Linked DNA regions of Homo sapiens: region 2 is linked to region 1. Evidence: fine-mapped expression QTL. A gene starts in region 1. The other region holds a variant in brackets. All regions are shown on one strand. Distances are from middle to middle. Region 1 holds the start of MTRF1L (mitochondrial translation release factor 1 like). Region 2 overlaps FBXO5 (F-box protein 5).

Region 1 (16,221 bases):
GTATTTAAGGACTTTTGTGCAATATGGTCTTAAGAAATAATTGCCAAAAAAATCGGCCATGGTTTGCATTTTTTAACATAATCTAAGACAGAAAAAAAGCAATTTTTACTATGTAACAATGGTATTCAACATTCTATATACTGTGTTTAGTACACTAATTTTGAAGCCAATATTTCTGTACATGAAAAAGAGCTATTTATCTCTGTTTGTTGGAAAATCCTAATGGGGATTCCTCTGGTTGTTCACTGCCAAAACTGTGGCATTTTCATTACAGGAGAGTTTACTATGCTAAAAGCAAAAAACAAAAAAAAAAAAAAAGGGAAGAAGGAAAAAAGCACAAAACAATTTGAAGATATCCTATCTCAATGACAAATCAAAAGAGTGATATTGCTTTTAACTGTAATAGAAGAAAATGAATTTATGTATATATCAGATGTCCAATACTGTAATTAATTTATTAAAGACTGGCTCTCCAGTTTTAAAATGGTTGTGTAAAGTTATGTACTTCAGCAAGAAAAAAATAATAATAAGCTTGATAACTTAGTTTTGGAATATAAAGAAAAGGACTTAATAAAGGAATGCCTACATGTAGCACTGTAAAACATTTTGATGAATAGCATCTGTCCTGTGGCATATTTTCCTTGAAAGTGAAATCCAATGAAAAGCTAAGTTTTTACCAGGAAAAGTTTTATAAGGGTTATGAAGAAAATAATCCTCTACTTCAGACCTTAACTGTTTTCACATAATATCTTAAGGATGACATTTTAAAGATGTTTAAACCAAACTATTAGTTTTCATCCATCATTAAAAGGCAGTACAGTGCTCAAATCTTCCAGCTGCCATATTATTTTTTATAAGTACACTAAATCTTTACGACAAAACACTTGCCTGACATTGTCATGTACTTCTGACCTTCAAGGAAACAATATTCTGTCATGCATAAAAGTGATAATTAAAATAATCAGTGTCATATTTATATCAAAGTGTTACATTTGAATATTAATATCCCCTGAAGACTATTTTTTTAATATTAAACTGAATGAATATAATACTGAGTAACCTAAAATGAAAGTTTTAAAAAGATTTATATCCACTGAGAACACTGGCCTTATATTAAGGATGATATTACAGTTACAGGTTTTCTTTGTCATTTTTTTAACTACCTCTCATTTTTTAATTTATTAAACATATTTTTTAAAAAAACAAGTTTGGGGGTTTCTTTTTAAATTTATTTTACTTGAAAGGTTGGCATCACAAGTTTCTTTTTCCATAAACTTAAAACATTTCAAAAATGGTTTTTTTAAGCAAGTATGATTTTCTAATTTATATAGAATTCAGGAGACATGAATAAAAGGGCTATTATCTATTCCCTATGCAAATATTTTAACTGTTGCAGTGTTTGACAAAATGGGATTTTTTAAAAATTGCAGAGTAGAAAACAAAATATTCTGTTTACACTGGCGTTGCTGACTATCCTACCATATTCAGCACTTTTAAATACGTTATTTATGAAAATGCAGTTAAAATGCAAGATAGAAAATATTTATAATAATCATTTCTTTTAACAAATGCCTGTGTTTTCTGAAAGTGTTAGTGTGTTAAGACATATTTTATTCATGTCATTTAAATACTATTTGAATAAGTTTTCAGTAATATGTTGAAAAAAAGATAGCTATGAAGATGTTTACAAAAAGTCATATTTTTTCCTAAAGAGTAAAGAAAAACCTAAAAGAATCATCACTTCTATTGTGAAGTTCTATTGTTCCTAAATTATTTAATTTTTTTCTTGCTTAGAATTGAGTTTATTATGCTACTATGATATATACACATGTATGGTGTAGTATCATATTTGTTTCTGTGTGTGAGGCTCAACAAATTGGTGCACATGACTAGAAAATATGTAATATACTGTGATACACTGCATGCATCCATCTTTTTAAATGTAGACTTTATATTCTCGTTGTTACTATATATGATGGTGACCTGCTAGTCATAAGTTATCTTTATAAGATACTTTGGACTATTAGATGAATTGTCTGTTTGACAATATCTTTAATATTTTACCAAATGTAAAAGATAAGGGCCGTTATAAAGAGTCCTAATCTCTAACCTGGGCATTTGTAGAACACAGATTTTAAAGTTGGTATATCCTTTTGAAACCTGATGAGGAAGTTGAGTTAAAAAAGATTCGAGAGCAGATTTACACATCAGATGTTGATAACCATGCTATGTGAGCATTTCTGTGCTAAACTCGTATTTTTGGGTGAGGGGAGGGTTTCTCATTTAAGAGTATGTCTGTATATTTGCAACTCTACTAATTTTCTAAGTATGATATAATTCCTTCTGTTTAAGTTACAGAGCTATTATAAATAAACAAAAGAGCCTTCAACTGGTGTCTATGCTACCATTCCAAGAGCACAATATTTGTTTTCTTAGAATTTGAGTTTTCCTAGTGAGTAAATTCCTCCCTGGGGAAAAATTAGCACTTTAAAATGGACACTTTGTGTTTTCAATTGCCAAGGTATCTTTGTATACTATTAGAATTTGCTGATGCACACAGAAAGAGATTAATGCACTTTCTATAGTGCCTAACTTTAGATGTATCTATAAAAGAAAGTAGAGGATACAGATTATGTATATATAAATAAATTGGAGAGCCAGATTTCTTCAGAGATTGATCTTGTACATTAATCACACCAGTAATGGATGGATGGCACTTCTTTACTCGGGCTGTTATGATGTTATCCAAAGGTAGTAGAGATGCTCTGACAGTGTTGGAGTGTGCACATGAACAACAAGAGCAAAACACAACTTTGATACTAAAGTTACGAAATGCAGAAGTCAAGACCATAATGTGATGTTTTTTTTTTTTGAAATCTTAAAATATGTACATAGAATGACCAGTTCTGATATGCCGTCTTAGTGCATGGATGTTTATTAGTATCCTTTAATGCTGCCTAGGTTCTGACTTACAGAATGAAATACGTGTTGTTTATCTACCTGATAGTTCAGTTTTGCCAAAGGACTATAGGGATAAGTGAATAATATTTATTTATTAGGAGCAAAAATACATTTTCATCCCATTAAGCTAATTTAAAATAATGCCTGATTTTTACTTTTGAGTTTATCCATTTTTCTATACCTTTAACTTATTTATACTTTAAAAAATCATATTGTAATTGTGACAAATTATATCTCAAAAAATACCAATTATTAGATGCTTTGGTGTTGAAATGTAAAAGAGAAGGAATTTAAAATACAATCAAAAAAGTCAAAAATAAAACGTATTTGAAAACCACCTAAAATTTCTTGGCCAGGCACAGTGGCTCAAGCCTGTAATCCCAGCACTTTGGGAAGCCAAAGAGGGCGGATCACTTGAGCTCAGGAGTTTGAGACCAGACTGGCCAACATGGTGAAACCCCGACTCTAGTAAAAATACAAAATTAGCCGGGCATGGTGGTGGGTGCCTTTAATCCCGGCTACTTGAGAGGCTGAGGCAGGAGAATCGCTTGAACCCAGGAGGCAGAGGTCGCAGTGAGCTGATATCATGCCACTGCACTCCAGCCTTGGCAACAGAGTGACTCCATCTCAAAATAATAATAATAATTATAATAATAATATTTTTAAGTCTTAGACAGAAAATGCCTATAGATAGAAGCCTATCAAACATGTATTTTGAATACTTTGATCTTGACACATTGCCTAATTATTTTGAAAGATGGTAAAGATATTTCCAAAAAATATTTTCGCCTATCTGTTTACATTGACAGTTTACAACCATAATTTTCTAAGTATATTTTTCAAACATGTATTTTTGTGTTTTCCATCTTCAAATTTCTGACCAATGGGTTTGTTCTCCTGCAAAAACAATATCCAATCTGCAAAAATTTTTAATTCTTCACTTGCTACAACTGCAAATATTTATCAATAAAACTGATAACCCAAAACTTGCTTCAGATTTTCCCTGCAGTGCTTAAAATATCCTTGCAACACAAGATGGTGCACAATGACAAGTATTATTTCTGAATACCCAGATTTGATTTATTTATAGGTATTTTTGAAATTATTACTCTTACAGGTGTAGTCCTCTCCAGCCCCAAGTAACATCTTTTCAGATGAATTCAAGAGGCTGTTCAAGACTTTGACTCTACTGAAAACACTACAAAAGGCAAAATGTTGCCCTAGGTGATAGAAGGTCCCAGTTTGGGAACTGATTTTCTTCCTATGACAAAAGCTATAAGATGAGTAAGGTTACTAATGGAAATGTATGTCCACAGATTCACTTAGGGAGCATAGTGTAAAAACATCAGGAACTTAAAATTACAAATTTGATTTCAAGTTATATTTCTGTCTCATGTGACTTTGGGCAAATCATTTATCTTCTCTGAGTTCATTTCCTCATCTGCAAATGACAAATAAAATACGTAATTATCAGGATAACTATGAGCATTAAATAAAACAAACGTGGAAAGAATAAAGTGTGGCATACATTATTATTTTATCAAAGTGCATCACGTCAATAATTGTTATTGTATACTTGTATTAAATGTCACTTTAATGCACTTTCCCCTATTTTTTTCCAAAACATACGTTAAACATCTGATTTAGCTACTCATCAAAACATACAATCATGTTTTAAGATGGAACACTATATCAGTGTTACTGCTTTTCTCAATAATGTGATCCCAAATCAGTACTTTCAGTTCACCATCACCTCAAATCTATAGAAATGTTTCTTTCAATGACATAGATAGATAGATGATTGATAGATAGATGATAGATAGATGATAAATGGATATACAATTATAGGTTAAAATTAAAGTTTAAATAAGATCAATCATTTGAAAGTTTTATTTCCAAAGGAAATAAAACAACATTCCCAAGGACAGAAATAATATCAAATTACTTGCTAAATATATAAATGAGTTATAGGGCTAAGACTAAGTTATAAGAGATTGACAATTAGAAAACACTCTTTTTAATATTAAGGTGGTATGATTTTCTTTAACAATTTTACAATGAAAATAAAAACTTAATAAAAGGTGGTAATGGGCCAGGCACGGTGGCTCACGCATACAATCCCAGCACTTTGGGAGACTAAGGCGTGAGGATCACTTGAGCCCAGGAGTTCCAGACATGTCTATGCAACAAAGTGAGACCCTGACTCTAAGAAAAAAATAAAATGTATAAAATTTAAAATAGTAATGTGTCCATTAAACCTTTTATTTTAGAGTAGTTTTAGATTTACAGAAAAACTCCAAATAGAGAGGTCCCATATACATCTATGGGCATTAATGAGCCAATATTGATCATTACATTCATACTTCATTCAGATTTCCTTAGTTTATAACCTAATGTCCTTTTTCTGTCCCAGGATCCCATTCAGGATACCACATTACATTTAGTTGTCATGTTTCCTTAGGCTTCCCTTGGCTGTGACAGTTTCTGCAACTTTCCTTGTTTTTGATGACAGTTTTGAGAAATAAACTGGTATTTTGTAGAATGTCCTTCTATGGGGATTCGTCTGATGTTTTTCTCGTGACTAGACACAGGTTTTTGGTTTTTGAAAGAACACAACGGTAAAGTGCCATGCTCATCACATGGTATCAAAGGTATATGCCATCACCGGGACTCGTCTTAGCTGTGACAGTTTCTCAAACTTTAGGCTACTCTTAGCTGTTGATGTTAACCTTGATCACTTAGCTGAGGTAGCATCTATTATATTTCTCCACTGTAAAGTAATGCGTTTTTAAAGAGATTATATTGAAGGTAAATTTTCTGGACATTTACACTGAGCTAAACAAATTCTAAACACTAATATTAGGTTCCACTAAGTGATTACTAATAAATGCTATAAAGAAAATACAGTGAAGTGGAAAAATAAAACTCCAGAAGTCTTAGCCTGAATATTCACCTAATAGAGGTGAAAGTGAATTTTTCCCTTGAACTGTCTGCGCAATTTACAATAATCCTCCACATACTTTGGATATTAAAGATCTTATCTTACTAATTGTCATAAGAGGTAATTTAAATTTAAACTAACCATTTTGCTTATTGCATTTTTATATTGCCCTCCACTAATCAATGAACACTGAATATTGAAATAATGTAAAAGACCTATTTCCCGCTAGCTTTAACCGATTTGTCATAAACACCTTTCTTGTATATGATTTTTAAATGTTTGCTAAATATTAAAAAGAATTCAATGTGTTTGGTTTTGTAAAATTACATATCGAATGTGTATAATTTTTTACTACCATGTTCATCACACTTAATCTATATCCATATATTGTACTCCACCAATATTTATCAGTGGACAATAAAGAAGTTTTGAATGCATGAATGCAACTTAAGAGGCACCACACTTGGTTATTTTGCAATGCCAGAATAACGGTGGGTATTCACAAATTGAATAGATAATCCAGATTATGTTTCCTCCAATTTAAGTTTTTCTGGGTTTTTTTTTCCCCCTTCCTAGAATCAATTTTATCATTTTACCTATGTACAATAATATACTTCTGGAAAATGCTAGAATTTTCACCATGTAACAGAATTTGAGCATGACAGTAATGTAAAAATATTCAGAAGTCTCGAACTATAGGTTTGAGTTTTCAAAGTAAATCAAAATACAGCTGTTTTCATTTTACTAGATTGTGGAAACCTATGGATGTTATTGTAAAATGCATATGCATTACACTGACTTTCTTAAAATGTTTTGAATTAATAAAGAATTCAACAATGTATCCTTAGAAAGTTACTGTTTCCTCATTGGTATATAACACTATAGGAATAAAAGGTACACTTCTATGTGTTACTTAAATTGCTTATGCACTTGGGGGAAAATAAAATTCTGGCTAGATTCTTTACATTGTTCTATAAGGTTTTAATTATTAAAATGTTTCACCTTTTATAAATAATAAAATATATTGTTGAAATGACTTATGTTCTGAGAACTCAACTGAGAGATATACCATGTTGAGTTCAAGTGATTCTCACCATTTCCATGGTTAAGATAAATTCAAAGTTAAGTTCAGACTTGGGAAACAATTGTTCTAATAGAGATAAAAACATCCTGATCAGTCCTGTTCTATCCTCAGATCAGGATTAAAATAAAATGGGTTTCAACAGCAGAACGATTGTATAAAGTTGTGTAGCTTGAATACACAAAGTGAAAAGAACTGAGATAATTAGGTGGAGCCTTTAAGTAGCAAAAAACTATTTTTGCTTCCTGATGTTTGAAGAGTCATTTCATTCTTCCACTCACTCTGCATTTGTTATCGTGCTAAGAGATGAAAAGAGAGAGGCAATGCAAACGTTATTTTCTAAGAATGTTTATACTTAACAGTTTCGATTAGATGACCTAAGGATATTTTAACCTTGATAAGGGTTCCCATTTTTTACCATTTTATTTTTTATGAATAAATTAGAAGTTTCGTACTTCTAATATATCACCTCTCTCAACAGTGAAATACCACTTAGTAGACGCTGCCCAAACCAGTTAGGTAGTGGCAGTTCTCAGATTGAGCGTTTAGCCCTTGCATTCCCAGGACTGTCTTGGTTGTGTTTATTCCCTCATATTTATTTCTCCGTTGAGCTGTGAACAGGTCTTTTGAAAAGTGCAAAGCATTGTGCCAATAAATGTCGGTATTGCTGGCACCTATCCGCTACCAGTTCTTTGGAAAGGGATGAGGGTTGGACTCCTGGAGGCAGATATCTGAAGGCTTTGTTGGGCTGTAGGTTGCTGTAACACGGAATCACTCCACCTCTTTAAAAAGCTGACGATAAGTGGGACTAAGTGAAAATGAATGGGCAGGTGAATAATAAAGTCCTTTGAAAGCAAGTAAATGACGCGGCAGATGAAGGGCACGCACGTCTATTGTGCAAATTCATTCAGTGGTTATCTCATAATACACTTATCAAGTCCTTATTACCACGAACCTCACCCACCGTGGACAAGAGAAACATAAGCAGGAAAAAAGGAGGAGGAATAAACACACGCCTGTCCATAATAAAACTCGCTCTTGAAGACTCAGCGGCAGCCCTGCACCGGAGACTGACGACTTGCGCGGCTGTGACCTCCGCCCTGCAGCGGACCCTCGACTGCCCTGCACTGCGGCTCTGGAGGCCCCGACTCAGTGCATGGGAAAGAAATCCTCACTATCAGAAAACAGAGGGGCAATCTGCTGCTCTCCCTTTCCGGCCAAACACGTCACCCATCAACCGGATACCTACCAAGAGGCTTTCAGAGGAGGCGCCCAAGGTCTCCCAGGCCCGCCCCTCCCCAATCACGCTCCGCTCAGCCCCCTCAACTTTTGGCCTCCGGGAAGTTCGCAGCGTTCTCACGCTTGGCAGGAAGTTCCCGCCAAGGCTTCCGGAAAATCCTTTAAAAAGCAACGCTTGCGCTGGGCGGGGCTTGGTGCGCTCTCACCCTTATCTCCAAATTCTGGGTGTTGTCGCGAGGGCTGCTGTGTCCGGAACTTCCGGTTCCGGTCAGGGTCCGCGATCTCGGACTAAGGATGCGGTCCCGGGTTCTGTGGGGCGCTGCCCGGTGGCTCTGGCCCCGCCGGGCCGTTGGCCCAGCCCGCCGGCCCCTGAGCTCCGGTAGCCCGCCGCTGGAGGAGCTGTTCACCCGGGGCGGGCCCTTGCGGACCTTCCTCGAGCGCCAGGCGGGGTCTGAAGCCCATTTGAAGGTCAGGAGGCCCGAGTTGCTGGCGGTGATCAAACTGCTGAACGAGAAGGAGCGGGAGCTGCGGGAGACTGAGCACTTGCTGCACGGTAAGGGTCGGGCCCGGGGGAGAGGCGTCAGAGCACATTCTTGACTCTTCGTTTGACTTTTCCACTGCCCACACTACCCGAGTTTGAAACTCTTTACTCACTTGCAGCCGTTTTTATTTTGGATCAGAGGTCAGGACATCATTACGTGCTGTGATCCCATCCTCTCCTGTGGGCTCTCTTGTGCTCCTTTGCCACGGCGCTCTGCCGCCTTTTACATGCTTATTAGTTGTGGACTCGGGCAAGAGCTCATTAGCTCAGCAAGGATAAATAAGGCACTGTCCCTGTGATGGGCTCCACAGCGGTGTTTCTCAAAGTGTGGTGTGGAGACCCATTTGCAGTAGTATCAGGGCAGTGCTTGTTAATAGCAGACTTAGGACTCAGAATCTCAGACCTATACGTGGGTAAAGGTACTAAATTGGGAAATTCAGTATGGCCTAAGTATAGAATAGGTGGGAGATGATGTCATAGAAACATGAAGCCAGAAAAATAGTTAAGAACCTTGCAAGACAAAGAATTTGGATTTATTTTTTATAGACCATGGAAAGTTAGCAAATGTTTTTAAGCAGAGAATTCACGTCTTTGTAAAGAAAAGTTAATGGTGGCATGCGCTGAGGATAAATTGGAGTATTCTCCAGAAACGCTGGTGGCTGACAGGCCAGGGAGGAGGCAGTTGAAACAATCCAAAGAAGAAATGGTGATAGGCATAGTTCTGACTCACAAAACATTTTGAGAAACAAGTTAGGATTTAGTGGCTTATGCCCTGAGAAGGATGAGGGAGAGAGTTAGTTCTAAGAAAAGTCTTAGGTTTCTGGCTTCAGCACGAGTGGTACTGTTAATTAAGATGAAAGTATAAAAGTTGGACCGAATTTTTTAAAAAGATGAGTTTTGCATTGAATGCCATATTAAGTTAAAAATACCTGTGAAAAGGAATTCCAATAAAGATATCTGTACTAGTCTAGGAGAAAAAATTACTGACATAGGAGAAAAATTGAGCCCAAATAATCATATGAGAGCTCTCGAGATATACAGTACGTGGTAAATTAAACCTTAGAAGTAGATGAGAACACTCAGGGAAAATGTGTTAAGATAGAAACAAGTCTAACAAGGCCAGAAATACACAGTATTTGAGGAGCAGGCAGAGAAGAAGGCTATAAAAGGTCAAGAAAAAAACAGCCAGAGCTTTGTGACCCTGAAGTAGATAAATAAATGAAGCTGTAGAAGCCAATAGAAAATTTCAAGAAGTAAGAGATCCTTGGCCAGGCGTGGTGGCTCACGCCTCTAATTCCAGCACTTTGAGAGGCTCAGGTGGGCCGATCACTTGAGCCCAGGAGTTCGAGACCAGCCTGGGTAACATGGCAAAACCCTGTCTCTACAAACAATGCAAAATTAGCTGGGCATGGTGGTGCGTGCCTGTGGTCCCAGCTACTTGAGAGGCTGAGGTGGGAGAATCGCTTGAACCCGGGAGGTGGAGGTTGCAGTGAGCCAAGATGGTGCCACTGCATTCCAGCCTGGGTGACAGCGCAAGACCCTGCCTCAAAAAAAAAAAAAAAAAAAAAAAATCCGTAGTACCTGACATAGAAAGGTAAAACAACCTTTTCAGCTCACACTGAAATAAGTCTTTAGATTTGGCAATTTTGTCATTGGTAACTTGAATAAAAATGGTCTTGATATGATTATAGAATCCAGTGTAACAGCTTGAGAGGTAAATTAGAGTTAACAGGAGAAAAGTTATAAAAATGGCATTTTATCTCCAGAAATCTGGGTGGGAAAAGAGGGGTGACAATAAGCAGCTACTTAAAGGGTTGAAAAGAAAAGGACCCATTTAGAATGGGAAACCATAAACATCTTTATAGGCAAAGGGGAAGGCAGGCACATGGTAGGTGTCCAGTAAACATATGTTGATTTATAATATTCAAGAGAAATTAAAGAAGTAGTATATTACCATTGCCTGTGAGTAACTCCTAATTCTAAACCCTTTAGAGCTGCACTGTCCAATATAGTAGCCAGTAGCCACACAGCTGTTGAGCAATTTGTGGCTAGTCTGAATTGAGGTGTGTAAGTGTAAAATACATATAGATTTCAAACACCTGGTATAAAAAGTAATATGTTTATGTTAATTACATGTTGAAATAATATTTGGAGCATATTGGGTTAAATAAAATATAGTATTAAAATTAAATTACTTCTAGACTCTAGTTCCAATCTCCTTAGCTTTGCAGAACTGAAAGGCACCTTAGAGATTATCCAGCTCAGAACTTTCATTTCATTCTTGTCATAACTGAAAGAAGTTGAGCCTATTGCCCTAACAGTACCTTAGCGATTAAGCTAGGGCTAGAATTCATTTTTGCTTTTCCTAACACATTTTCCATTCTACCAAATTTCTTCCATACCATATGCTTGCCAAAATAATTTTCAGCAGTGCTTCCTGTACTTGCTTATCTCAGTTTTGCTGTTGTTATTCTCTCTCCTTGAGTTAATCTTTTTTTCCTTTTTCTGCCCATTCCAAAACCAACAGATTCCTTCAAGGCACAACTGTTTTAATATTTAATCACATAGTGTATTAGTCTGTTTTCACACTGCTGATAAAGACATACCCAAGACAGGGTAATTTTTAAGAAAAAGAGGTTTAATAGACTAACAGTTCCACGTGGCTGGGGAGGCCTCCCAATCATGGTGGAAGGCAAAAGGCACGTCTTACATGGCAGCAGACAAGAGAGATAACTTGTGCAGGGGAACTCTTCTTTATAAAACCATCAGATCTTGTAAGACTTATTCACTATCATGAGAACAGCACAGGAAATATCTGCCCCCATGATTCAGTTACCTCTCACTGGGTCCCTCCCACAACAGGTGGGAATTGTGGGAGCTACAAATCAAAATGAGATTTGGGTGGGGACACAGCCAAACCATGTCACATAAGGGTTTAGGTTATTTTTTGTTTTTCTCTTCTAGAAAAATATAAGGAAACTAAAATTATCTATAATGCTCTCTTGAGGGCAGGTCTTATATATGTATTATCCCACTTCCCAGCATGGTTGTTTCTTAATAGATAAGCATACAAACTGATGCTTTGTAAGGGTTTGAACTTTCAATAGAGAGAACAATTTGTTAATAGCCAGAAATTTTCCCTTTCCTCCTCCTTTATATATGCTGCATATCATCTATAGGGTAGAGGAATGAGAAAGTATGTTTTATAAGGTAAAAATGAAAATTCAAAGATGAAACAACAATAAAGGTAAAGCCAGAGAGAGAGACAGAGGAGTACTTCGTATAAACATTCTGTATACATTAGGCAGAATCTAATAAATGTTTTTGGGTGGATACTAAAATACTAATGAAACATTTGCTTATAAGAGAATAAATTTCTACTTTTTAATTGAATTTTAGTTTTACTGGTGTAACCTTCTGTATCCCTTCTGTCTTATTAGCTAAATGCATTCGTTATTATACAGTCTAAGTTGGAAGTCTAAAAGCATATTTATTAAGGTGAATATTTCATGGAGATGAAATTATGGAAGAGTTTAGCTTCTTTATATTTTTATAGAAATTTGTACTTGTACTTTATCAGAAAAAAAATTTTATACTTACATGCTTATGAAAACTAATGTATAAAATGGTGAAATTGATTGAAAGGACATTTATTGAAAGGCATTTATTGAATGGTATTTATTGAAAGGACAAGATATACATTTTATTTTTCCCTTCAGCTATAATAACCATAAAACTATTTCCTAGAAGTCTGCTAGCAATTTAACACTAATTAAGGAAAACCTTAACTTCTGCCCTTTTTTTCCTAGATGAGAATGAAGATTTAAGGAAACTTGCAGAGAATGAAATCACTTTGTGTCAAAAAGAAATAACTCAGCTGAAGCATCAGGTATGGTATTTCTGCAAAGAATAAAGCATTTGTGCTATTCTTAGGCATTAAAGTTTATTAAAGGTTTATAAAAACAAGTGACTAGCTTGTTACTGTTTAGAATAAACTGGGTTTTTTAAATTTATTTTCTAGATTTATTGAGGTATAAATTGACCCCCAAAATTGCATATATTTAAGGTATATGATGTGATGTTTTGATATATGCATACATTTTGAAATGATTATGACTATCAATAAACTGGTTTTTAAAGAACAAACTTCACATGGTCCTGTTTTCATCATACTAAAAGTACTGTAGCGCTCTCACAGAAAGATAAATGTCACAGTGATAGTATTTTCTGGAAAGGCAGCGAAATAGTGGCATATCTTCCCTTTTTTTTTTTTTTTTTTTTTAAGAAGACTGGAGGTAGACATGGGGCAGAAGAGGTTATATGAAAGGACTTCAAAAGTTTGTGGAAAACTGGAATTAAAAGATAAAAAAATATATATATAAACTTTAATTTATTGACATAAGTGCCACCAGCTATCAAGTTCAAGACACTTTGGTAAGCAAAAAGGTGATATACCAGCATTTAATGCATCCCTAAAGAACTGAGGGTCCTGGGAATTTAACCATGTCAATGTAGTCTTTTTTATATTATTAACTAAAGAACAATGGGTACCCTTTACAAAGTTTTTAAGATCAGGAAACAAAAAAAAGGAGGAGCCAAATAAGGACTGTAACATGAGTGCCTATGGATTTCCCATTGAAGCTCTCAAAATTGCCTGTTTGATGAGAGGAATGAGCAGGAGCACTGGTGTAGGAGAGGACTCTGGTGAAGCTGTCCCTGGTATTTTGCTAAAACTCTGGCTTTCTCAAAACCCTCATAGTAAGCAGATACTGTTCTTTGGCCCCTAGAATGTCAATAAGCAAGGTGCCTTGAGAATCCCCAAAAAGACTATTGCCATGACTTTTGCCCCTAGCCAGTCTGCTTTTGCTTTGACTCGACCCCTTCCACCTCTTGGTGGCCATTGTTTTGATTGTACTTTGTCTCCAGGATCATACTGGTAAAGCCATGTTTCACTTCTGGTTATAATTCAAAGAAATGCTTTAGGATCTTGATCCAATTTGTTTAAAATTTCTATTGAAAGCTCTGCTCTTGCCTCCAGCTGATCTGCATGCAAAGGTTCTGGCACCCATCCAGTGGAAAGTTTGCTCACCTTTAATTTTTTTGTCAGAATTTTATAAGCTGAACCAGTTGAGATGTCTGTGGTTTGACTATTGTTTCTTCTGTTAATCATCAGTCTTCTTCAATTAGGGCATGAATAAGATAATTTTTTTCCTCACAAATTGATGCAGATGGTCTGCCACTGTGGACTTCTTCTTCAACATCATCTTGTCTCTACTTAAAATGAGTTATCCATTTGTAAACTGCTGATTTCTTCAGGGCATCATCCCCATAAACTTTTCATAAAGCATCAATGATTTCACCATTCTTCCACCCAAGCTTCACCAGCAATTTAATGTTTGTTCTTGCTTCAATTTAACAGAGTTCATATTGCTCTGATGGGGCTCTTTGCAAACTGATACCCTTTTTAGTACCTCAAACTAGAGCCTGTGACTTGTTATAACAAGTTAGCACGAGTTTATTTTGTTACAAAATAACTTTGAAATACAACTTCTTGAAGTCCCCTGTTAGAGTGATAGTAGACTGTGAGCTCCTCAGGGCCAGGAATACTTATTTTGCATCTCTGACACTATTTGGAATACCAGACCTAGAGTAAGCCCTCACGATTTTAAGAATTGGATTACATTGCTTTGGTTGTACATCTTTGTGAATTACAGAACATATAGAGTTAATGAAGAATAATTATATGAAATTAGAGCCACTCTTTGCTAATTCTGTAAAGCAGAGACTAAAGGTTGACAGCAATTACCGTTGGGGATAAGTGAAAGAATATGTTAGGTAAGGAAGGAGCCAGGAAAGGGGGTACTTATTTTTGAGAATCTGCTTCCCCTTTAGGCAAATGTGAAAATTACTAAAAATTAATGTTCCTATAACCTATGTTAGAGGGGGAGAATTCCACTATAAGGTGAAAAGTGTAGTATAGCTCGCATTTTACCCATTTTCTAAATTAAATTTTGTGTGAATAAGAAGGATATGTGTATTAAATGTTTCTGTTCAGTGTCTAGTAATCAACAAACAGAAGTAAAATCCATTATTTGTTCAAAATTTGAATGATAATGTTGTATTGGCATAGGCTAGAGAGATGGAAAAGTAGTAACTAGCATAGCTTCTGACCAATGTCAAGTGTGATAGCAGTGTACTCAGGTATATTCAGGTTCAATTCTAGCTCTTCCACTTAACTTTTGAGTTGGGTAATGTTGAGCCACTAGATTATTCAACCCCTGTAAAATTAGTTTCACATCTTAAGGTAGAACTGTTAATAATACTTACCCAAGATTGTTTTAAGAATTACAGTATGTACAGTGCTTAGAATGCCTGCCATATATTAAAGAACCAATAAAATGTTGGTAGCTTTTCTTATTAATTGACCTAATCTAAGAAGTGTTTGTTCTAGATCCCCTTGATTAGAAACACACTATTGTAATGGAGGGAAGACTGATCTAGGCACAAAGGTTTGTGTTCTTGTGCCTGCTTGGCCAGTAACTAACACTTTGCCCTTAAACAAGTCATTTAATCTCTGTTAAGCTCTGTTTCCTTTACATGTATAATTAAAGAATTGGACCAGATAATCTCTAAGGGCCTTTTTAGTTTCAAAATTACAAGTTTCTCTTCCATAATAAGAAATCTTAAAATAATACAAATGTAGTTTTGAGTGCTTTTGGTTTTCTGCCATACTAGGCCTTAATTTTCAAGAGGATGGATCTAGAATCTTCTTTTGCTTTCCACAACAGTATAATCTCCGAATCAGAGCAAGTACTTAGTTCTTATTAACTGAAGAGAGAACTGATACAAAGCATACAAGAACTCCAACAGACAATAAAACAAGCCTGAAATTTTAGCTGAATCTTAACAGCATTTATAATATGGTTGTAACATTAATACTTTATGGAAGTTACACATTATACAGTTCTAATTGGCAAGGTGGTTGAACAGTACTCAGCAATATTACATTATTTGCTTGGCGAAACTTAAATATTTAAAATTCCTGAATCATTTAGCTTTTTATTTTTTGATAAATTTTAAATCTTAATTATAGGAGGGGTGATATTTTTATATTTACAGATTATCTTACTTTTGGTTCCCTCAGAAGAAACAGATGAAAATGATTTGATCCTGGAAGTAACTGCAGGAGTTGGAGGTCAGGAGGCAATGTTGTTTACATCAGAGATATTTGATATGTATCAGCAATATGCTGCATTTAAAAGATGGCATTTTGAAACCCTGGAATATTTTCCAAGTGAACTAGGTCAGTAAACTATTCATTTTGTTTCAGGTAAAGTGTTTAGGAAAAGAGTTGGAAAGACCATGACTAGGCTTTAGAACTTATCTGTGAGGATGCTTATGTAGTTTTATGCTCATCATTTACCTAATAAATTTGAATGCACATACAGTAATTTTGAG
Region 2 (16,049 bases), 37 kb after region 1:
GAGTCTCGCCCTGTCACCAGGTTGGAGTGCAGTGGCACGATCTCAGCTCACTGCAACCTCTGCCTCCCGGGCTCAAGTGATTCTTCTGCCTCCTGAGTAGCTGGGACTACAGGCGTGTGCCACCACGCCCAGCTAATTTTTGTATTTTTAGTAGACACAGGGTTTCACCATGTTGGCCAGGAGGGTATCTCGATATCTTGACCTCGTGATCTGCCTGCTTCAGCCTTCCAAAGTGCTGGGATTACAGGCATGAGCCTAAACAGCTTCTTGAGGGACAGTCAAATCAGTACCACAGATTCTACTTTTTCTGTTAACATAGTGAGTTTCTAAAGTTGATTTCTAATAGCAGTGTGCCTAGAGTACTTTGAAATTTGTCTATTACTTTTACCAGATAGCTAACATGGTATCATATATACAGTGGGGGCTACTATTTGATGTTTGCAGATATTGTGAAAAAATACTGTACAAAGCAGTGGTTCTTAAGCCTCAATGCACTCAGAATTACTTAATGAGGAGGGAGCTTTTTAAAAATACAGAGCCCTGAGCTTCATTTTAGACCAGTTAAAACCGCCAGGCAATTGTAATGTGGTCAGGTTTGAGAAGCACTAATAATATAAAATATCTTTTTGCACTGCTGATGTTTTTCTACTGTATTCATCTTAGCTCTTTGTGATGCTTTAATTATTTCATTTATGGTGATTTACTTTTCCAGTGTGTCTAAAGTGAGCACAACTTGGAAGAAGATCCTAGAAGATGATAAGGGGGCATTCCAGTTGTACAGTAAAGCAATACAAAGAGTTACCGTAAGTGTTTGCAGATGATGTTTTTAGTTAAAAATGCACTGTTAGTGCTCTTCTAGAAATAGAAAAGAAAAGAGGTAATCTGGAAACCCTTCTTTACAGTCATAAAGTATTTCAGCCTTATACTGGAACTTAGAAACCACATTCAAAAATAAAGAAATCTCAACTCAACATTTATTTCTTGGATTCTTCCTAGAAATAGAATGTCTAAAGTAACAAAGGGAAAATTACTCATTTCTCAGATAGAGTCGACCATTTAGTCAATCTTAGTTGCCAGTTGTGTGTATGTGTATTTTATAACATCTGGAAAATTTGGAAAAGCTGTTTTACTTTTTAGGTATTAAGTACCATATAGACTGCATCTAAAGTGATTTCCCATAGTATTTGGTTCACAGTTTCTGTCTATAAGTTAGGCTTGATATGTGTGAGTATTTAGGTTTTGCTTTGTTTAAGTACGTGCAGGTAAATTGCATGTAGGGATAAGTCTCTTACCTAATCTTGTTTGTCATTTCTTATATGTACAAACATAAAAATGTCTCATTGAGGATACAGGAAATAATTTCTAAATTCTATTAAAACTTTTTTTTAAATTAGGAAAACAACAATAAATTTTCACCTCATGCTTCAACCAGAGAATATGTTATGTTCAGAACCCCACTGGCTTCTGTTCAGAAATCAGCAGCCCAGACTTCTCTCAAAAAAGATGCTCAAACCAAGTTATCCAATCAAGGTGATCAGAAAGGTTCTACTTATAGTCGACACAATGAATTCTCTGAGGTAATTTTTTGTCTAATCATAAATCTTAAAACATAAGAGATTTAGAGTAAGAAATGTAAAAGAACTTTCAAGGTCAAAATGTAACTTTGCTCTAGATAATAACTAATTTATTCTCTGACATTAAGAAACCTGATATTAATGATCATTTAAATTTAATTATAGTATAATTAGAACTATTAGGGATTTCATTAGTGTCCTCTTCATTTCGCTCTCAATGTGGAAAACAAAAGAAACATGAAATTAGGAAAGTACGTAGAAATGTATTTCTATGAATATTAGGTACTGCTTGGCATTGTTTGAAAGTTCAGTGATTTTGAGTTCTAATTTAGAAACACTGAAGAAATAATGAAAAACCTAGATTTCTTATAAAATTACTCAGTACTACATTTTGCATTTTCCGCTTTTAAGAACCGAGGAAGAGAGTTAAGTGGAAAAAGGCAAGCTTTCTGAACTTGAAGGCCTTCTATTATACCTTCAGATCAGTGAATGATGTGTGCTAAAATTTCTACTCAAATGTAGATAACTTTGCAAGCTTAATTTAGATAACTTACCAAAATTATAGAATATTTTCTGATTCATGTTGATCAGTAAATATAAATCCTACATAATAAAACTATTCTTAAATTTTATGCCATAATGACTAATGCAACATACAGATTTATTCAAAAAGCATTTATTGAGCATCTATCAGATAATGCATAGATAAAGGGCAATAGTTAGGGCAGTAGTTATCGTATGTGTGACAGTGATATTTCATACATGAATTGGGGAAGGTGCAAGGGTGTCCTTGGTTTTATTAACTAAAGTACATGTAATTCTTGCTGAAATTTGTTAATGGGTTTTTTTTTTCTTTTTAGGTTGCCAAGACATTGAAAAAGAACGAAAGCCTCAAAGCCTGTATTCGCTGTAATTCACCTGCAAAATATGATTGCTATTTACAACGGGCAACCTGCAAACGAGAAGGCTGTGGATTTGATTATTGTACGAAGTGTCTCTGTAATTATCATACTACTAAAGACTGTTCAGATGGCAAGCTCCTCAAAGCCAGTTGTAAAATAGGTCCCCTGCCTGGTACAAAGAAAAGCAAAAAGAATTTACGAAGATTGTGATCTCTTATTAAATCAATTGTTACTGATCATGAATGTTAGTTAGAAAATGTTAGGTTTTAACTTAAAAAAAATTGTATTGTGATTTTCAATTTTATGTTGAAATCGGTGTAGTATCCTGAGGTTTTTTTCCCCCCAGAAGATAAAGAGGATAGACAACCTCTTAAAATATTTTTACAATTTAATGAGAAAAAGTTTAAAATTCTCAATACAAATCAAACAATTTAAATATTTTAAGAAAAAAGGAAAAGTAGATAGTGATACTGAGGGTAAAAAAAAATTGATTCAATTTTATGGTAAAGGAAACCCATGCAATTTTACCTAGACAGTCTTAAATATGTCTGGTTTTCCATCTGTTAGCATTTCAGACATTTTATGTTCCTCTTACTCAATTGATACCAACAGAAATATCAACTTCTGGAGTCTATTAAATGTGTTGTCACCTTTCTAAAGCTTTTTTTCATTGTGTGTATTTCCCAAGAAAGTATCCTTTGTAAAAACTTGCTTGTTTTCCTTATTTCTGAAATCTGTTTTAATATTTTTGTATACATGTAAATATTTCTGTATTTTTTATATGTCAAAGAATATGTCTCTTGTATGTACATATAAAAATAAATTTTGCTCAATAAAATTGTAAGCTTAATGTATACCTTTTATAAACATTGTAATCCTGGAAACAACTGAATTAGGAAGCTGCAGTAGACTGCGTTTGTGTGAAGGCATTGAATGGATTTTTGTGATGGTTTTTCTGGGGAGCTTGTGAGATTTTTGGGCAGTACCCTGATCCCGGTTTTTCCCACTTAATAGCTTAATTCAGTAGTTGTGGGGTTGGGTCTTGAGATAAACATCTCGAGATGATTCAATACAGGAAGGCCATAAAAGACACTGATAAATACTGATGTGCTAATTTGTCTATCACTAAACCAGCTGAACTATGGATTAAATAGCACCCCATCCCCCTCAAAAAGCTAGAAGGATTTAAATTGTATAGAATAAGATGCCATCTTGGCTGCAGTCAAACATTTGTGCTAATAACAAGAGCCCAGAACAAGGATGTCTTTATTCCTTAATTCCAAAGTTAGTTATGTTTCAGTTTCAATTACGAATATGGGGAAATCCTAAGAGGCTGAATTCAGACTAGGCCCTCCAAAGATTCAAGGGTGGGCCTCGGATGCTATCAGTTGGGCCCCAAAGATGTTTAAGGGCTTTGCCTTTCGTCTCAACAAAAACCTAAGGTAGAGGGTCCCTCCTGTCAACTCCCAGGCAATCACTGATCTTTGTCACTGCAGACTTTTCAAGGATTTTCTATAAATGGAGTCAGTTTGCTTTCACTGAAGGCTATTTTGACACTCATCTGTGCGTGTGCATCAGTAGTTAATGCTCTTTTCTTACAAGGCAGTATGCTGTTGGAT[A/G]TACCAGTTCACCAGTTGATGGATGTTTGGCTCTTTACTCCATTTCCTGCTGTTACAAGTAAGGTGCTGTCAGTGCAATCAAATTAGAACTCAGGATTAAGAAACTCACTCAGAACCGCACAACCACATGGAAACTGAAAAATCTGCTCCAGAATGACTACTGGGTGAATAACGAAATTGAGGCAGAAATAAAAATGCTCCTTGAAACCAATGAGAACAAAGACACAACATACCAGATTCTCTGGTATCATTCTCTGGACACATTTAAAGCAATGTATAGAGGGAAATTTATAGCACTAAATGCACACAGGAGAAAGCAGAAAGATCTAAAATTGATACCTAATATCACACCTAAAATAACTAGAGGAGCAAGAACAAACAAATTCAAAAGCTAGCAGAAGACAAGAAAGAACTAAGCAAAACTGAAGGAGATAGAGACACGAAAAACCCTTCAAAAAATCAGTGAATCCAAGAGCTAATGTTTTCAGAAGATCAACAAAATAGACCGCTAGCCAGACTAATGAAGAAAAGAGAAGAATCAAATAGACGCAATAAAAAATGATAAAGGGGATATCACCACCGATCCCACAGAAATGCAAACTACCATCAGAGAATAAACACCTCTACACAAATAAACTAGAAAATCTAGAAGAAATGGATAAATTCCTGGACATACACTCCCTCCCAAGACTAAACCAAGAAGAAGTCGAATCCCTGAATAGACCAATAACAAGTTTTGAAATTGAGGCAGTAATTGATAGCCTACCAACCAAAAAAAGTCCAGGAAGGGACAGATTCACAGCTGAAATTCTACCAGAGGTACAAAGAAGAGCTGGTACCATTCCTTCTGAAACTATTCCAAACAATAGAAAAAGAGGGAATTCTCCCTAACTCATTTTACGAGGCCAGCATCATCCTGGTACCAAAACCAGGCAGAGAGACAACAAAAAGAATTTCAGGCCAATATCCCTGATGAACATCAATGCAAAAATCCTCAATAAGATACTGGCAAACTGAATCCAGCAGCACCTCAAAAAGCCTATCCACCATGATCAAGTCGGCTTCATCCCTGGGATGCAAGGCTGGTTCAACACATGCAAATGAATAAGCGTAATCCATCACAAACAGAGCCAATGACAAAAACCACATCATTATCTCAATAGATACAGAAAAGGCCTTCAACTAAATTCAACAGCCCTTCATGCTAAAAACTCTCAATAAATTAGGTATTGATGGAACATATCTCAAAATAATAAGAGCTATTTATGACTATCCCATAGCCAATATCATACCAAATGGGCAAAAACTGGAAGCATTCCCTTTGAAAACCGGCACAAGACAAGGATGCCCTCTCTCACCACTCCTATTCAACATAGTGTTGGAAGTTCTGGCCAGGGCAATCAGACAAGAAAATAAATAAAGGATATTCAATTAGGAAAAGAGGAAGTCAAATTGTCTCTGTTTGCAGATGACATGATTGTATATTTAGAAACCCTGTCGTCTCAGCCCAAAATCTCCTTAAGCTGATAAGCAACTTCAGCAAAGTCTCAGGATACAAAATCAATGTGCAAAAATCACAAGCATTCCTATACACCAATAACAGACAGCCAAATCACAAGTGAACTCCCATTCACAATTACCACAAAGAGAATAAAATACCGAGGAATACAGCTTACAAGGGATGTGAAGGACCTTTTCAAGGAGAACTACAAACCACTGCTCAAGGAAATAAGAGAGGACACAAACAAATGGAAAAACATTCCATGCTCATGGATAGGAAGAATCAATATGGTGAAAATGGTCATACTGCCCAAAGTAATTTATAGATTCAATGCTGTCCCCATCATGCTACCATTGACTTTCTTACAGAATTGGAAAAAACTGCTTTAAATTTCATATGGAACCAAAAAAGACCCCGCATAGCCAAGACAATCCTAAGCAAAAAGAACAAAACTGAAAGCATCATGCTACCTGACTTCAAACTATACTACAAGGCTACAGTAACAAAAAGCATGGTACTGGTACCAAAACAGATATATAGACCAATGGAACAGAACAGAGGCCTCAGAAATAACACCACACAACTACAACCATCTGATCTTTGACAAACCTGACAAAAACAAGCAATGAGGAAAGGATTTCCTATGTAATAAATGATGTTGGGAAAACTGGGTAGCCACATGTAGAAAGCTGAAACTGGATCCCTTCCTTATACCTTATACAAAAATTAACTCAAGATGGATTAACGACTTAAACATAAGACCTAAAACCATAAAAACTCTAGAAGAAAACCTATGCAATACCATTCAGGACATAGGCATGGGCAATTACTTCATGAACAAAACACCAAAAGCAATGGCAACAAAAGCCAAAATTGACAAATGGGATCTAATTAAACTAAAGAGCTTCTGCACAGCAAAAGAAACTATCATCAGAGTGAAAATGCAACCTACAGAATGGGGGAAAATTTTTGCAATCTATCCATCCGACAAAGCGCTAATATCCAGAATCTACAAAGAACTTAAACAAATTTACAAGAAAAAAACCCCATCAAAAAGTAGGTGAAGGATATGAGTAGACATTTCTCAAAAGAAGACATTTATGCAGCCAACAAACATACGAAAAAAAGCTCATCATCACCGGTCATTAGAGAAATGCAAATCAAAGCCACGAGGAAATACCATCTCATGCCTGTTAGAATGGTGATCATTAAAAAGTCAGGAAACAACAGGTACTGGAGAGGATGTGGAGAAATAGAAAAGCTTTTACACTATTGGTGGGAGTGTAAACTAGTTCAACAATTGTGGAAGACAGTGTGGCGATACCTCAAGGAACTAGAACCAGAAATACCATCTGACCCAACAATCCCATTACTGGGTATATACCCAGAGAGTTATAAATCATTCTACTATAAAGACACATGCACACGTGTGTTTACTGTGGCACTATTCACAATAGCAAAGACTTGGAACCAACCCAAATGCCCATCAATGATAGACTGGATAAAGAAAATGTGGCACATATACACCATGGAACACTACGCAGCCATAAAAAAGGATGAGTTCATGTTCTTTGCAGGGACATGGATGAAGCTGGAAACCATCAATCTCAGCAAACTAACACAAGAACAGAAAACAAAACACCACATGTTCTCACTCATAAGTGGGAGTTGAACAATGAGAACACATGGACATGAGGGGAAGGGGGTGGCATCACACACCAGGGCCTGTTGGGGCTGGGGGACTGGGGGAGGGATAGCATTGAGAGGTGACAGTGTGCTGGCAGTCCTCACAGCCCTCGCTCCCTCTTGGCGCCTCCTCTGCCTGGGCTCCCACTGTGGGGGCACTTGAGGAGCCCTTCAGCCCGCCACTGCACTGTGGGAGCCCCTTTCTGGGCTGGCCAAGGCCGGAGCCGGCTCCCTCAGCTTGCGGGGAGGTGTGGAGGGAGAGGCGTGGGTGGGGACCGGGGCTGCGCGCGGTGCTTGTGGGCCAGGGCCAGTTCCGGGTGGGCGTGGGCTCAGTGGGATTACAGTGAATCTATAGACCAATTTATACAGAACTGACATTTAGCAACCTTGAGTTTTTCAATCCATTAACATAGAGTTCTTCCACTGATTTCCATATTTCAAAATCTCTCTTAGCAAAGTTTTATCTTTTCATTGTATGTCTTGTGCACTTTACATCAGATTTATCCCTGTTTTTTGTGCTATTGTAAATGGCATTTTAATTTCAATTTTCAATGATTTATTGCTAATGTATTGAAATACAATTTATTCTTATATTGATCTTGTATTCTCCAACCTTGCAAACCTCAGTTATAATTGAAAGTCTATCACTTGTTCTCTGTAGGTGATTTTTGTCTTCTACAAATAAATACAGTTTTATTTCTTCCATTTCAATCTATATGGTTTGTATTTATCTTCCTTGCCAATTTGTACTGGCTAAAACCTCCAGTAAAATAGAAATAAAAAATGTTGATGAAGATACCCTTGCCTTGTTCCAGATGTTAGGGGAAAACATTCAGAATGATGTTAGCTGTAGGTTTTTCACATATCCTCTTATCAAGATGATGTTCCATTTTATTCCTAGTTTGTTGAGAATTTTTATCAGAAATGGCTGTTGGATTTTGTCAACTTTTTTTCTCCATCAATTCATATGACCATATGGTTATTCTCTCTGGATTCGTTAATATGAATTACACTGATTGATTTTCAAATGTTAAAGCAATCTCGCATTCCTGGGGTTAATGCCACTTCATCACAATGTATTATCCTTTTTAAACATTATTATATATTTAAATATGTATAAATATATATTTGTTAAGAATTTGTATTTATATTTATGATGAATATTGGTCTGTAGCTTTCATACAATGTCTTTGGGACATATTCTTTTCTTTTCAATTTTCTGGATGTTTGTGTAGAATTGGTATTATTTCTTCTCTTACTATTGCTGGAATTGTACAAGGGAACCATCTGAGTCTGTCATTTTCTTTGTGAAAAGATGTTTGAAATACAGTTTTTTAATAGATAAAGGGCTATTCAGGTTATCTATTTCTTCTTGAGTGAGCTTTAGTAGTTTGTATATTTCAATGCATTTTTAATTTAATTTATTGTATTTATTGGAATAAAGTCATCACAATATTCTAGTATCTTTAATATTTATAGAATGTGTATTAATGTCATCTCTTGCATTCCAATATTGATAAATTCTGTCTTTTCTCCCCTTATACTGATCAGTCTGACTACAGGTTTATCACTTAGATGGATCTCAAATAACTCATTTTTGGTTTCAGATTTTTCCCTGTTTTTCCTTATAATTGATTTTTTGTTTTATTTCTTCTGTTTCCTTGTGCCTGAAGGACTTTAATTTGCCCTTTTTCTACATTCTTTTTCTGGATTCTTAAGGTAAATGTTGAGTTCATTGATTTCAGACCCTTATTCTTTCCTAATATAAATATTTAGTCCTAAAAGTTTCCTCCAAATTCTATTCTAGCGGCATACCACTAAATCTGATATTTTGTCCTTTTCTTTTTATTCATTTGTAAGTGTTCTATAATTTTCCTTTGGATTTCTTCTTTGATGTGTAGGTTATGTATAAGTCTGTTATTTACTTTTCCAATATTCTGGAATTGTCCATATATCTTTTTATTAACTTCTAATTTCATGGTGGTCAGAGAAAACAGTTGTGTGACTCAATTCTTACAAATTTATTGAGTATTTGTTTTTGGCCTATAATACGCTCTATGAAGGGAATATGGTGTGTTTTGCTGTTCTTTGGTAAAATGACCTATAAATATCAATTGGTTCAACTTGGTTGATAGTGCTCTCCATATCTTCTATATCCTTACTGATGTCTATCTATTTGTGCTATTATTGAGTGAGAAGTATTCAGATCCCTAGCTGTAATTGTGGATTTGTCTATTTCTTGTAATTCTATCAGTTTTTGCTTTTAAGTACAGATGCTCCTCAACAATGTGGTTATGTCTGGATACACCCACTGTTTGAACTTACAGTGTGTTTATCTGTGCACAACTTCATAAGTCAAAAAGCATACTGAATGTGTATCCCTTTTGCACATTGTAAAGTTGAAAATTTGTAAGTCAGAGGCTGTCTGTATTTTGAAGCTCTGTCATTAGTTGCATAAATATTTAAGATTATTATGTTCTCTTAGTGAAATGAACACTTTATCATTTTTAAATGACCTTTTTATCCCTGGATGTGGCTTTTCTATGGAATCTACATTGTTTTATATTAAAATAAGCACTCCAGTTTTGTTTTGTTTTTTGAAATTAATATTGGCATAGTATATTTTTTCATCCATTTTTAACTTTTTTTGTAGTTTTCTATGGTAGTGTGTTTCTTACAGACAGCATATAGTCAAGTATTCATTTATTTTTTTAATCTACTTCAAAAATGTTTGTCTTTTGAGATAATTAGACAATTTTCACTTGATGGGATTATTGATATGGTTGGATTTAAACCTACTTTCTTGATATTTGTTTTCTATTTGGTAATTGTTCTTTATTCCATTTTTTTCTCTTTTTTGCCATCTTTTGATTATTTTTATGGTTCCTTTATATCTAGTTTATTAGCTAATTAGCTATAATTCTATTTTGTGATTTTAGCTATTACCTCTGGATTTATAGTATTTCTTTTTAACTTGAGTCTAGCTTCAAATATTATTGTACCCTTTTATATATAGTATAAAACTGCCATACTATTTCTTCCCTCTAAGCTTTGTGCTGTTATCATACATGTTAGTGCAATATATATGTGTATATATATACACAAATATATACATACACTACATTATTTTTGTTTCTTTGTTTATCATCTAAGATATTTATGTAATGAGAAAGTTTTCTTATACTTGTATTTGCCCACACAGTTGTCATTTCTGGTATCTTCATTCCTTTGGGTAGAAATAAATATATTTCTATCTGATAAAACTTTCCTTGTGCCTGAAGGACTTCCTTTAATTTTTCTTATAATACAGATATGCTGGTCTTTGATTTTTTTCAGCCTATGTACATGTGAAAACATCTTTATTTTTGTCATTTTGAAGTTATTTTTAATTAACAAATGATTCTATATATTTATGGGGTACATGATGCTTTGATATATGTACACACACACACACACTGTAGAATGATTTAACATATCCATCACCTCACATACTTATCTTTTTTTTGTGGTGAGAACATTTAAAAATCTATGTTCTTAGCAGTCTTCAAATATACATACAATACATTATTATTCACTATTGCCTCCATGCTTCACAGTGGATCTCCAGAACTTATTCCTCCTATCTAACTAAGCTTTTTATCCTTTAACCAATATTTCTCCATTTTCCACCTCACTATCACCCACCCTAGTCCCTGGTAACCTCCATTCTACTCTGATTTCACATAAAAGTGAGATCATTCAGTTTGTCTTTTGTCTTTCTGTGCCTGGTTTATTTCACTTAGGATGATGTCTTCCACATTCATCCATGTTGTTGCAAGACTGCCATGTGGAAGGCAAGATATCTTTCTTTTCATAAGGCTGAATAGTATCATGCTATGTATATATATCACATTTTCTTTATCCATTTATCAGTTGATAAACACTTAGGTTGACTCCATATCTTTACTATTATGAATAATACTGAAATGAACATGGAGGAGGGAATATCTCTTCATTTCCTTTGGTAACATACTGAGAAAGATAATTGTTGAATCATACAATAGTTTTATTTTTAATTTTGGGGGGAACCTCCATACTGTTTTCCAAAATAATTATGCTAATTTACATTCCCACCAACAATGTACTAGGGTTCCCTTTTCTCCACATTTTTGTTAACACTTGTTATGTTTTATTTTTTTGATAAAGACTATTCTAGTGAGACGATATCTCATTGTGGCTTTCATTTGCATTTCCCTGATTGATTATTAGTGATGTTGAACATCTTTTCATATACCTGTTGGCCATTCACATGTCTTCTTTTGAGAAATATCTATTCAGGTTCCTACCCATTTTTTAAACTGGTTGTTTTCTTGCTATTGAGTTGTTTGAGTTTCTTAAATATTTTGGATATTGGCCCCTTATCAGATATGTGGTTTGCAAATATTTTCTCCCCATCCCATAGATAGTCTCTTCACTCTGTTGATTGTTGCCTTTGGTGTGCAGAAGCTCATTAGTTTGGTGCAATCCAATTAGTCTAATATTGCTTTTGTTGCATGTGTTTTTGGGGTTGTATCCAAAAAATTTTTGCCAAATCCAATGTTAAGAAGCTCTTTCCCTCTGTTTTCCCCTAATGGTTTTATAGTTTCAGATCTTATATTTAAGACATTAACCCATTATGATTTGACTTGTGTACTTGGGACAAGATTAAGGGTCTAATTTCATTCTTCTGGGTGTTGATATCTAATTTTCCCAACATATTGAAGAGAATGTCCTTTCCTTATTGTATGTCCTTGACAGCTTTGCTGAAAATCAGTTGACTGTAAATGTGTGGGCTCTGTTTTCTATTTCTTTGGTCTATATGTCTGCTTTTATGACAGTATGGGCTGTTTTGATTATTATACGTTTTTGGTACATTTTCAAGTCAGGTATTGTGATGCCTCCAGCTTTGTTTTCCTAAAAATTGCTTTGACTATTTGAGGTCTTTTGTTTTCCTATACAAACTTTAGGGTTGTTCTTTTCTATTTCTGGGAAAAGGTCATTTCACTTTTGACAGGGATTGCACTGAATCTGTAGATCACTGGGGTAATATGGACATTTTAACAATGTTAATTCCTCCAATCCATGAATACTGTATATATTTTCATTTGTTTTTCTCTTAAATTTATTTCATCAATGTTTTATAATATTCAGTGTATGGATCTCTCATACACTGAATGTATTTGGTTAATTTTATTTTTGGTTAAATGTATTTCTAAGTTTTTCATTAATGCTATCACAAATAGGATTGTTTTCTTGATTTCTTTTGTGAATAGTTTGTTGTTAGTGTATAGCAATGATACTAATTTTAATATGTTAATTTTGTATCCTGCAACTTTACTGAAATCAAAGCCAGTCAAGGACATTACAAAAAAAGACAATTATAGGCCAAAATCTCTGGTGAACATACATGCAAAAATCCTCAACAAAATACTAGTAAACTGAATTCAATAAGACATTAATAGGGTTATTCACCAAGTTTTTCACTTGATTTTGTGCTGCTATAACAGATTATCTGAAACGGGGTAATTTATAATGAACAGAAATTTATTGGCTCACTGTTCAGAAGGCTGAGAAGTCCAAGATCAAGGGGCTGACATTTGACAGGGACCTTTTTTGCTGCACTCTTTTATGACAAAAGGGCAAAGAAAATGCAAGAAGGCTGGGCGCGGTGGCTCACGTCTGTAATCCCAGCACTTTGGGAGGTCGAGGCAGGCGGATCACCTGAGGTCAGGAGTTCAAGACCAGCCTGGGCAACCTGATGAAACCCCGTCTCTACTAAAATACAAAAATTAGCCGGGTGTGGTGGTATGCACCTGTAATCCCAGCTACTCCAGAGGCTGAGGCAGGAGAATTGCTTGAGCCTGGGAGGTGGAAGTTTCAGTGAGCCAAGATCGTGCCATTGCACTCCAGCCTGGGGGTGACAGAGCTAGACTCCATCTCCAAAAAAAAAAAAAAAAAAGGGGGGGCAAGAGATTGAACTTGCAGCCTGAAGCCCCTTTGTAATCAACCTTAATCCACTTATAAGTGGTGGAGCCCTTATAGCCTAAACATCTTCTATTAGGTTCTACCTTTCAACACTATTAGATTGGAAATTAAGTTTCCAACAAATGCTTTTAATTAATTAATTTATTTTTGAGAGAGGGTCTCACTCTGTTACCCAGGCTGCAGTACAGTCGTACTATCATGGTTCACTGCAACCTCAATCTCCCAGACTCAACTGATCCTCTCACCTCAGCCTCCCCAGTAGCTGGGACTACAGGTGTACACCACCATGCCCAGCTAAGTTTTTGTTATGATTTTTTTTTTTGGTAGAGACAGAGTCTCACCATGTTACTCAGGCTGGTCTTGAACCCCTGGGCTAAAGCAATCCTCCCACCTTGGCCTCCCAAAATGTTGAGATTACAGGTGTAAGCAACGGTGCTCAGCCCACACATGCTTTTTTGAGGACACATTCAAACCATAGCCTTTTTGTTCCCTTGGGCCCCAAAATTCATGTCTTTCTTGCAAAATACATGCATTTCATCTAATAGCCCCCAAAAGGCTTAAATCATTCCAGCATCAACTCAAAAGTCCAAAGCCCAGAGTCTCATCTAAATAAGATATAGGCTAAAGTCAAGGCAGGATGGCAAGGAGGCAATTTACTTCAGGCATGAGCCTGTGGAATCAAGCAAGTTATGTGCTTCCAAGCGTTATGTGCTTCCAAAATACAGTGGTGGGACAGGCATAGCATAGACATTCCTGAGGCAAGATAGGTAGTCAGGGAAGTAACCATGTCTTTGGGATTCAGCGACTGCACCACAACAGCAAGCCCCACAACCATGTCCTCGGGAAGTGAAAACCACACCAATACAACAAACCCCAGGCGGAAGTACGGACCGCATATTGGCGTCGCCGAGCAACTGTGGGGGATCCCGGGGGGAAAAATCAACTGGCGCCGAACCGAGCTGAAGAAAAAGCTGATCAGCGCAGGCCGGTGTTGAACCGCAAGCAGCGTCTGAGGCACTGGGTGGTCGAAGCTGTGATAGATCAAGCGCTGATCACGCGGCACCACCTCAAGAAGCAGGCATCCAGTGCACGTGCCAACATTACTCTGTAGGGGAAGAAGCCTAGAAAACTCCTCCGGCAGATCCGGCTTGCCCAGATGGAGAAGGCAGCCATGGAGGTGGAAGCCCGTCAAAGCCAGCCAGGACTATCGAACCACAGCTCAAAATGCAAAAGAGGACAAAAGTCCCCCAGGACATAGAAATGAAGGACCTTGAAGATGAGAGCTAAACCTCTTCCACTAGAAGATTCTCAACTGGAGCCCAAAGGACTCAGTGGTTGTTTCAGAGGATGTTGACAAAAGCAGTGCCCCTTTTCACTCTCCATATTTCCTCCTTTCTAATGGCCTACTGACTTCCCCTGGAGGGATGTCTTTGGGAGAGAAGAGGGTACAGAAGAAAGATTGGAGAAGGGCCTCTCTAGCAGTCAACTCCATTTGTGATAAAACCCTGGCACTCTGGAAAACAAACAAACAAAGAGCACTCACTACTGGCTTCATAATCAAGCACAGAACTATCCTCAGTAGGAATTTTTCTTTTTTTCTTTTTTTTAGAGATGGAGTCTCGCTCTGTCGCTTAGGCTGGAGTACAATGGCATGATCCCGGCTCACTGCAACCTCTGGCTCCCAGGTTCAAGCTATTCTCCTGCCTCAGCCTCCGGAGTAGCTGGGACTATAGGCATGCGCCACCATGCCTAGCTAATTTTTGTATCTTTAGTAGAGACGGAGTTTCACCATGTTGGTCTCGAACTCCTGACCCAGTGATCCACCCGCCTCAGCCTCCCAAAGTGCTGAGATTACAGGCATGAGCCACTGTGCCTGGCCAGGAAATTTATCCTGTAGACAGTATGCACATTTTAATTTTACTTGTCCGCAGACTGACTCATTGCTCATTATAATAGTAAAAAACACACCACTGGGAGGAGATTTAAGATGTGAATGGGACCCACAGTATATAAACAAACATGTACATGGCTGGGCATAGTGGCTTACACTTATAATCCCAGCACTTTGGGAGGCCAAGGTGGATGGATCACTTGAGGTCAGGAGTTCGAGACCAGCCTGGCCAACATGGTGAAACCCCATCTCTAGCAAAAGTACAAAAATTAGCCAGGTGTGGTGGCACGTACTTGTAATCCTGGCTATGTGGGAAGCTGAGGCAAGAGAACTGCTTGAACCTGGGAGGTGAAGGTTGCAGTGAGCTGAGATTGCCCCACTGCACTCCAGCCTGGGCGACAGAGTGAGACTCCATCTCAAAAACGAAAACAAAAACAAAAACAAAGCAAGCATGTACAGCTACTGAGCATGTGTACCCAGAGAACACCTGTAATATACTTACTATTAGGCTGATGTAAAAGTAATTGTGGTTCTGCCATTAAAAATACAGCAAAAACTGCAATTACTTTTGCACCAACCCAATAGCAATGTCTTTTCCCACCCCCTTATGAATGATCATGTAAGACTTCCATAAAGAGAGTTTCCCTTGTAATAGTCAATGCTGTCTCACTCTCGAGCAGCCTACTCTGACTCAGCTCTCAGAGTGTACTATTATTGCTTTTGCACCTACCTTTCAGAATATACTTATTCTTTTGCAATATATTGCTTCATGCTGTTTATTGCTGTGTGTCTCTTGTTTAAATTCTTTTAACCTAGAAGACAAAAACCTAGGATTCACAATCACCATCAACATTCCCATTCCAAAAGGGAAAA

The links. PIP is the estimated chance that this variant, and not a neighbour inherited with it, causes the effect.
Region 2: its variant is the best candidate, but not a certain one, in a credible set for the expression of MTRF1L in whole blood (INTERVAL, PIP 0.52).

What each region holds. Positions count from the first base shown.
Region 1 is chr6:152,994,981-153,011,201 of GRCh38, reverse strand. MTRF1L (mitochondrial translation release factor 1 like) reads left to right here and starts at 8,493. Exons shown (of 7, transcript NM_019041.7): 1 at 8,493-8,775; 2 at 12,573-12,652; 3 at 15,883-16,066. The coding sequence starts at 8,517. It overlaps RGS17 (regulator of G protein signaling 17), which reads left to right. Exons shown (of 5, transcript NM_012419.5): 5 at 1-6,743. RefSeq lists enhancers at 8,136-8,245, 7,336-8,336 and silencers at 8,566-8,675, 8,686-8,745.
Region 2 is chr6:152,957,800-152,973,848 of GRCh38, reverse strand. FBXO5 (F-box protein 5) reads left to right here. Exons shown (of 5, transcript NM_012177.5): 3 at 713-803; 4 at 1,395-1,577; 5 at 2,435-3,314. The coding sequence ends at 2,686. It also overlaps the pseudogene C11orf98P2. Among named protein-coding and RNA genes, the nearest start is that of FBXO5, 17 kb to the left of the region's middle. The variant A/G (reference allele first, on the strand shown) is at 4,096.